Homo sapiens: one gene and its partner. The protein of the gene in region 1 purifies or fractionates together with the protein of each later gene. This does not show direct contact. Each region holds a gene or a part of one and is shown in the gene's direction. Other genes may lie near its edges. The genes, in order: PSD2 and NMT2.

Region 1 (3,812 bases):
GATTGGGGAGGGGGTGGGGAGGAAGGCCACAGTTGGGGAGGCAGAGAAGGAGAGGAGTTGGGGGGCCTGGACAGAGAATGTGAGGACTTAGAGGGTTTGGGGTGTGTGAAAACTGGGCAGACAGAAGGGAGGAGGAAGCTTCTTGGTTTCTGTCTCTTGGCTGTTGAAGCAGACTGTGGGGAGCTACTCAGAGGTGGAGCTCTCTCAGGTCTGCCTCTGCCCAGGTGTTGTATCCGAGGCTGGGCTGGTTGGGAGGATTTGCACTTGGTCAGTCCATTGTAGCTCTCAGGATTCAACTCTCAACCCACAGGCTCATGTTAGCCTGTGGGCTCCATGAGCCTGTGGGTTGAAGCAGTGTGAGTCCAGTGCCCTCCGAAGTTGGAGGAAGGTGGCCCAGTGGTCAGTCTGGCTGTGAACTCTCTTGACCAAGACAGCTTAGTCCTTTGTGGTTCCTGATAACTGAGGGTTCACCCCGTAGGGAAGTCAGTTGGGCATAGAGTCACCAGCTGTAAACATGATTTGAAATTTGACAGCAGACTTTGTGGATTTCATTAGTGTTAAGGGCTCTTCAACCAGCATGCAGATGTACGCAAATGCTAAGCAAATGAGGGTGCCAATTGGCTGGGGGGTTGGGGAGAGAAGCAAGCTGGGAGATGTCTAGGAATGACCTTTGTGGAGCAAGCTCCAAGGGCCCCTGAGAATCCCAGCAGAGCACATGCAGGATAAGATGCAAATGTGCATGCAGCCCCGGGGACTTCTGCCTGCCTGACCATGAGAACATGAGCCCAAGGCAAGGGCTGGTTCCCTGATGGCCACACTGAGAGAAGGAAAGCAGGTGGGGGCTGGTTATCACTCCAAACAGGCATTACCTGAAAGGGATGGGCATCTTTAAAGAGGGCGTAGGTTCTTGGCCCTTGCCCTACACTTGTGTGCCCTGAGATGGAAAGATAGGAGTGAGCCTGGCCTTGGGTGAGGGTGTTGGGAGGGCAGGACAGTAGGGACCTCAGCTGCCTTGGGAAAGGGAGGGGATGCCCTCTCTGGCCCCCCTCCTGGCCCCACGGGAGTCTTTGATTTGCCTCTACCCTCTAGCTGGGCTTCTGAAGCCCCTGCCTCAGAACTTGCTCTGACAGCTGCCAAGGACGCATATCCAATGGGTGCTGGCTGAGTGGCCTGTGCTGTGTGCTGCTGTCCTGGGCATGGCACCCCTGGGGGTAGCCAGCTTGGTTCCTTGCAGCCCCCAGAAGGTTTTGGGAGGCAGCAGCCCTCCCTTGAGCACTGAACACATGCCATCTCCTTTAGTCCTCACAGGTGCCTTGAGAAGACAAATGCTCTTGGCACCCCCCATTTATGGAGGAGGACACCGAGCTCAGATAGACAGGCAGTTTTCCTGAAGTCACACAGCTTGTGGCTAGCAGAGCTTGGATTTGGAGCCAGGTCTTTCTGAGCACACAGGAAAGGGCACTGACCCACTCTCCCGGACTGTCCCAGTCTGAGGCCCTTGCAGCACAAGGCGGTCCAAGCTGGGAAGACCAAGTGGGTTAAGAGGGTTTAGGGTCACTTTGGGATGTGGAATCCGGGAAGTTCCCTAGGCTCCTGGGTGGGCGTCCCTTCCAAATTATCCTGGGCATCTCCCTGGGCAGTTGGGATGTGGAGGAGGCTGGCCTGGGCTTAGGGAGGGGGCCTGGAGCTCTTGGAGGTGGGAAGATCCTTAACTCCAGGCCCCTTGGTTGGCAGAGGCTACAAGGGAGCATGGTTAGGGGGGCCCAACTGAGGGCTTCCTGGCAGCACCCTACTGCCCATGCTGCCAGTGGCCTAGCAGGTCCTGTGGAGCCCTGGAGCACTCCAGGCCTGGCCATCCTAGGCCCCATTGCGGTGTGGGCATCGCTGTTCAGGGTCTGTTTTGACACTCCCTACATGCCACATGTTTGCATTGATCATCTCTTTTAAGTGTCTGTGTGTGTCTTGTGTGTTCATGTGTGTTCACATGTGTTTGTGTGTCTGAAGATCCTAGCCCATGTGCTAAAATCTGGGTGATCTAGGGAATCTTGGGTTGGGATTTTGGGGAAGAGTAGTGAACCAGTGGGGGTGTTCAGGGTGGGTTTCCAGGGGGCAGAGAATAGGTCCAAGAAAGATTTCTTTGCCAAGTAACCCTCATGGAGCTCTCTCCAAGTATCCAATGTTGGTTGGCAGGTCCTTGGAGACTGTCCAGATTAGGGTATGGAATCAAGGATGGATAGAGGGCTTTGAGCCTTTCCAGATATACTCTAAATGTTGCACACATTTGTGAGATTTCCAGGGCAGGATCTTCCATCAAGTGCACAAAGAGGTCCAGGACTTGGAACTGGTTAGGTATCAATGGTGCACGTGGGGACATGAGGTCAGAGAGGGGTTTTTTTGTGCCCAACTTCCCCTAGCCCACTGGAAGCAAAACGTGAGGGTCCTGGTGCTCCTAGATTTGCTTCCCTGGGTCAGCTGTGGTCTCAGCCTTGCCACCACACTGACATTCCAGAACAATTTTCTCTGATCCCAGTCCCTTCTGCATACCCAGGATGGTTTTGACCCTGGATGCCCGATGATGTAGATCTCGCTGCCCTTAACCTTGCCCATAGGCCTGCCAGTGCCTTGTCCACCTTACCAGGCAAATTAGGGGGATTGCCTCATGAGCGGCTGCCCAGTTCCCTCTGTGTGTGTGCGTGTGTGTGTGTCTGTGTGCATGTGTGTGTGCGTGCGTGTGTGCATGTCTGTGAACGTGTGTGTGCATGTGTCTGCACGTGTGCGTGTGTATGTGTGCGTGTGTGCGTGCGTGTGTGCATGTGTGTGTCTCTGTGTGTGTGTGAGTGTGTGCGTGTGTGTGTATTGTGCATGTGTGTGCGCATGTGTGTGTGCACGTGCGCGTGTGTCTGGGCATGTGTACATGTGTGCATGTGCCTACCCATACCTGTATTGTATGTCTGCTGTCAGGTCCTGCACCCATGCACTTGCCCCTGTGTCTTATAGAGCATGCTGGCCTCTGGAGCCCTCCCTGGTGGGCCCCACCTCCAGCCCTGCCCTTGGGTTTCCCACAGTCCCTGGCTTGGATCCCACCATAAAAGGGACCGTAAGATTATTTCTTTGACAATCTAGCATTCCATCAGAATCTCAGCCTTGCTGCTTTCCAGCTTTGTGACTCCGAGCAGTTCCTCAATCTCTCTTAGCCTCTGCCACAAATAGGCATGATGATAATCCCTGTTATTCATCTAACAAATACTTCTAAAGGCCTGCTGTGTGCCAAGCATTGCACTGGACTCTGGGGACACAGCCGTGAACATGACATAGTCCCCACCCTCACTGAACTTACATCCTAGTACAGAGATAGGCAGGGAATCAGTAAACACATAGAAAAGGGAGCTTCAGTTCTACTGAGTGCTATGGTGCTCCATCACTCCATGATGCAGTGCCAGGGGTCAGAGAGGGCCTTTCTCAGGAGGCAGTGTTGGAGTTGAGCCCTGAGTGGCAGAAGAAGCTCTTTTAAAGATCTAGGGAAAGAGCATTCTAGGCCACGGGTATAGCTGGTGCAAAGGCCCTGAGGTGGGAATGAACTCAGGGAGCGGAAAGAAGGCCACTGTGGCTGATGTGGGAGAGCATGGGGACATGGGGTAGAGGGCAGCAGAACCAGCTCCTGCAGGACCTTTTCAGGCCATGCTGGGGAGACTGGATTCTAATCTAGGGGAGATGGTTAGAGGATTATGAGGAGGGAGGAAGGATTGTGCTTTTGCAACTCCCTCCAGCTGCCACAGGGAGAGTGAGGAGGGGGACAGAGTTGCTCAGGAGAG
Region 2 (3,812 bases), on another chromosome or scaffold:
TAGAGGTGTGCTGGTCAACCCATGAGCTAATTAGGTAGGGAATAAATCACTCTGAAGTCTTCTTCATGGAGTTGGTCATTTTGGTCATTGGGTCATGTGGAACAAAGATGCTGATTCATGTCTGTTGCAAAATAGTTTGAGTTTGATATATTACTGTTAGAAGATTTAACTCAGAAACCAGGAAAGAAATCAAGGAACAAAAAATTAAATCAAGAAAGAAAAAGTACCATGACAAATTCATTATAGTCATTGTAGTTCTATTTTTATAAGACTGGGCTCTACTTTGCCATTTTAAGCTAAACTGATGCACAGTTAAGCATTATTAGTTGAAATATGCTGTGATCTCAATTCCTATTTAAATTGTAAGGTCTTCTAATAGATGGTGTTGTTGGAGTTCAGATACACATGAATTTCATTTTGCTAGAAATTTGCTCCTTTTAATGTTGGGGACTTAAAAGACACCCAAGGAAAAGAAGTCATCCAAAGATATAATAATGAGAACCGGAAAAGTATTTTGTTAAATTTGTATGTGTCATTAAGATAGGACCTTTATGATTTTGATGTTAAACAAATGTAAGATAAACAGCTTACAAAAACTGTGGCCATCTTGGATTGTGCTGTGAGACTTCCAAGCAGAGACAAAAAGACTTTCACCTGCCTCCAGCTGGACTTCAGAACTTCGTTTCCTTAGGGTTCTTGACAGTGTTTGTATGAAACAAACCCTGTTCTGTGCTGTGTACGATGAGTAAGCTTCCCAAGTTAAAATTATTGCTCCACACCACAGATTTCAGATTCCAAGTGGAACAGAAGTCCAAAGTTGCTGTTTATAAACTTCTAAGGGTCGATTGTACCTTTCAATGGTGTCCACCCTGTGTTGACATACAGCAAAACCGAAGGGCTCTTGAAACTTCTAACCACTTTCTGAATTACAGCGAAGAATATTCTTTGCATGGTATCAAAGTTCTACAATGTCTCAGTAATTTTACATATTGAAAAAAGTCATTGATTTCCATATTCAGTCCTCTGCGCTGTCTTCTCATTTCAAGTAGTCTCATGTTCCATGTATTATTACGTTATTTGAGGAATTAAAAAAAAAAAAAAAAGAACTGGGGAATCTCCAAGAGCTGGCGGGAATATTGGCTTTGAGAAAGGAACCTTAGAATTCAAACGTAATGTTTTACCTAAAAAGGAGTCCAGTTTCCAACACTTGGGCTGGGAACGACAGGCTATGGTTGCCCAGGATCTGAAGTACAGAGGAAATTGCTTGTCCTTCTGGTGGGAGAGTTTGTCTCTAGAGGATCAGGAGGATCAGGAGGGTCAGGAGAAGGGCAGGGTGTGGCCGGGAGGAAGGGGCATGGTTAGAGATTTCTTTTCTTGATCATTTTCATCCCAGTTCAGCACTGAGTTCAGATTTCCCTTCCTTCCTTCCTTCCTTCCATCTGTCCTTCCTTCCTCCTTTCCTCCCTCTCTCCCTCCCTCCTCCCCCTGTCCCTCTCCTTCCTCCTTCCTCCCTCTCCCTCTCTGTCTCTCCCCCCTACCTTCCTTCCTTCCTTCCTCCCTCGCTCCCTCCCTCCTTTTTTCTTTTCTTTTCTTTCTCTCTGTCTCTCTCCCTTTCTCTTTCTCTCTCCTTCTCTCTCTCTCCCTCCTTTCCCTTCCCTTCCCTTCCCTTTCCCTTCCCTTCCCTTCCTTTCCCTTTCCCTTTCCCTTTCCTGACAGAGTCTTGCTCTTGTCACCCAGGCTGGAGTGCAATGGCGCGATCTCAGCTCACTGCAACCTCCACCTCCCAGGTTCAAGCGATTCTCCCTCCTCAGCCTCCCGAGTAGCTGGGATTACCTGCCATCATGCCTGGCTAATTTTTGTATTGTTGTAAAGACAAGGTTTCACCGTGTTGGCCAGGCTGGTCTCTTAACTCCTGACCTCACGTGATCTGCCCACCTCGGCCTCCCAAAGTGCTGGGATTATAGGCGTGAGACACCACTGCCGATCCTCTCTCTTTCTTTCTCTCTCTCTTTCTCTTTCTTTGTTTTCTCTCTCTCTCTTCTTTCCCTCCCCTCCCCTTCCCTTCCCTTCTCTGCTGTGTTTCCATTCTAGAAGTTCTTTCCTTCATCCCCTCGTTGCTCCTGCAGAGCATTTACTCTGACAGTGCCCCCCACCCAAGGCTCGTGGCTGCCTGGCTGTTGGATGACAGTAATGCATGCACTGCACGTCTCCCCCAGAGGAGTAATGCCGGGGACCATTTGTAGATGGATGGGAAACTGAAGCAAAGCGTGCTTCAATTTAGATTCCCCAAACTGCCAGAGCCCCAATAAAACTAGACAACTGTTGTTACCTTTAACAGAGGGTTTGCTTCTATTTTCATGTGTAACACACAAGCCCATGGCCTTGACTGGGCTTGGAGGAGGATTGTTAGTGTTTAGGTATTGTAGTCTCTGAGGCAGATGCACGTGCGTCTGCTCAAGTTTAACATCAGCAGCCGCTCTCTCATATTCTGTGTCTGTCTTTGCTGTCGTAGAATCCCAGTGTTCCAATGCAGAAGTTGCAGGATATCCAGAGAGCAATGGAGCTGCTATCCGCATGCCAGGGCCCAGCCAGGAACATTGATGAGGCTGCAAAGCACAGATACCAGTTTTGGGACACACAACCGGTACCAAAACTAGGTAAGTTTTTCTGCTTTTCTCTTTTTTTCCCCACAAACAAAGCTGGATGAACAACAACAACAACAACAACAACAACAACAAAACACAAAGAGTGTTAACTTCACATGTATCATTTATTTCATACCACAGATTGGAAATCTATGCAAGACTAATATTTTTCTTCTGAAAATATAAATATTAGATAGTGACATTGGCTTTTGATAACCATTATTTTAGTCCAATTTCTATCCCAATAAAAACATCCAATTTCCCCACACTTGAAACATTACTAGTATTATTATTATTTTTGAGATAGGGTCTCACTCTATCACCCAGGCTGGAGTGCAGTGGCATGATCATAGCTCACTGCAGCCTCCACCTCCTGGGCTCAAGTGATCCATCCTCCCATGTCAGCCTCCCATGTATCTGGGACCACAAGTGCACACCACCACACCTGGCTAATTTTTGTATTTTTTTGTAAAGACGCTGTTTCAGTATGTTGCTTGGGCTGGTCTCGAACTCCTGGGCTCAAGTGATCCACCTGCCTTGGCCTCCCAAAGTGCTGGGTTACAGGTGTGAGCCACCGCACCTAGCCCATTAGAGTATTAAAAATGTATATAAGGTTCTGTGATGGAAGGACCAGGCCCTGAAGGTCCCTCATGGAGCAGGTGTCTGTTGAGTGTCTGTTATTAAATGCCAGGCATAGTCCAGGGCACACACCTGGAAACAGTGGTGGAAAAGTAGGACAAAAGGTGGCCAGGCTGGGGAGGAGCGGCCACACTGAGGTAGAGAAAGGCTTTAGTTAAGCAACAGATGCTGGGAGAAAGTGACGTGTGATGCGTAAGCTTCTGTCGGGAATTCCAAGGGGCCCGTCCCTTGAGGACCAGAGGGCCTCAAGCCTAAGGAAGGCACCAGGAAGGCCCTGAGCTGAGGCCTGCCCCGGTCATCATGGCCAGAGCACTGGGAGCAGGGGGCAGGGAGGGTGTGGAGAGGGGCCGAGGCAGGCAGCAGCCATGGGGAAGAGCCTGGGTTTTAGTCCTACCATGTTGGGAAGCTCTGCAGAGAAGGACTTGGAAAACTCTTCTTGGTGGAAATCACTAGAAATTGTGATGGCCTGAACTACGCTGCTAGCAGTTTAGATGGGGAGAAGTAACCAGCCTTGAAATTATTTTTAGG

What was found.
Region 2: the proteins of PSD2 (region 1) and NMT2 purify together in Homo sapiens (affinity purification with mass spectrometry; one large-scale study listed by BioGRID and IntAct). This does not show direct contact.

The regions. Positions count from the first base shown.
Region 1 is NC_000005.10:139,802,176-139,805,987, forward strand, and holds part of PSD2 (PH and SEC7 domain-containing protein 2), read left to right. Parts: intron 1-3,812.
Region 2 is NC_000010.11:15,134,119-15,137,930, reverse strand, and holds part of NMT2 (glycylpeptide N-tetradecanoyltransferase 2), read left to right. Parts: exon of another isoform or gene 1-2,512; coding exon 2,513-2,657; intron 2,658-3,812.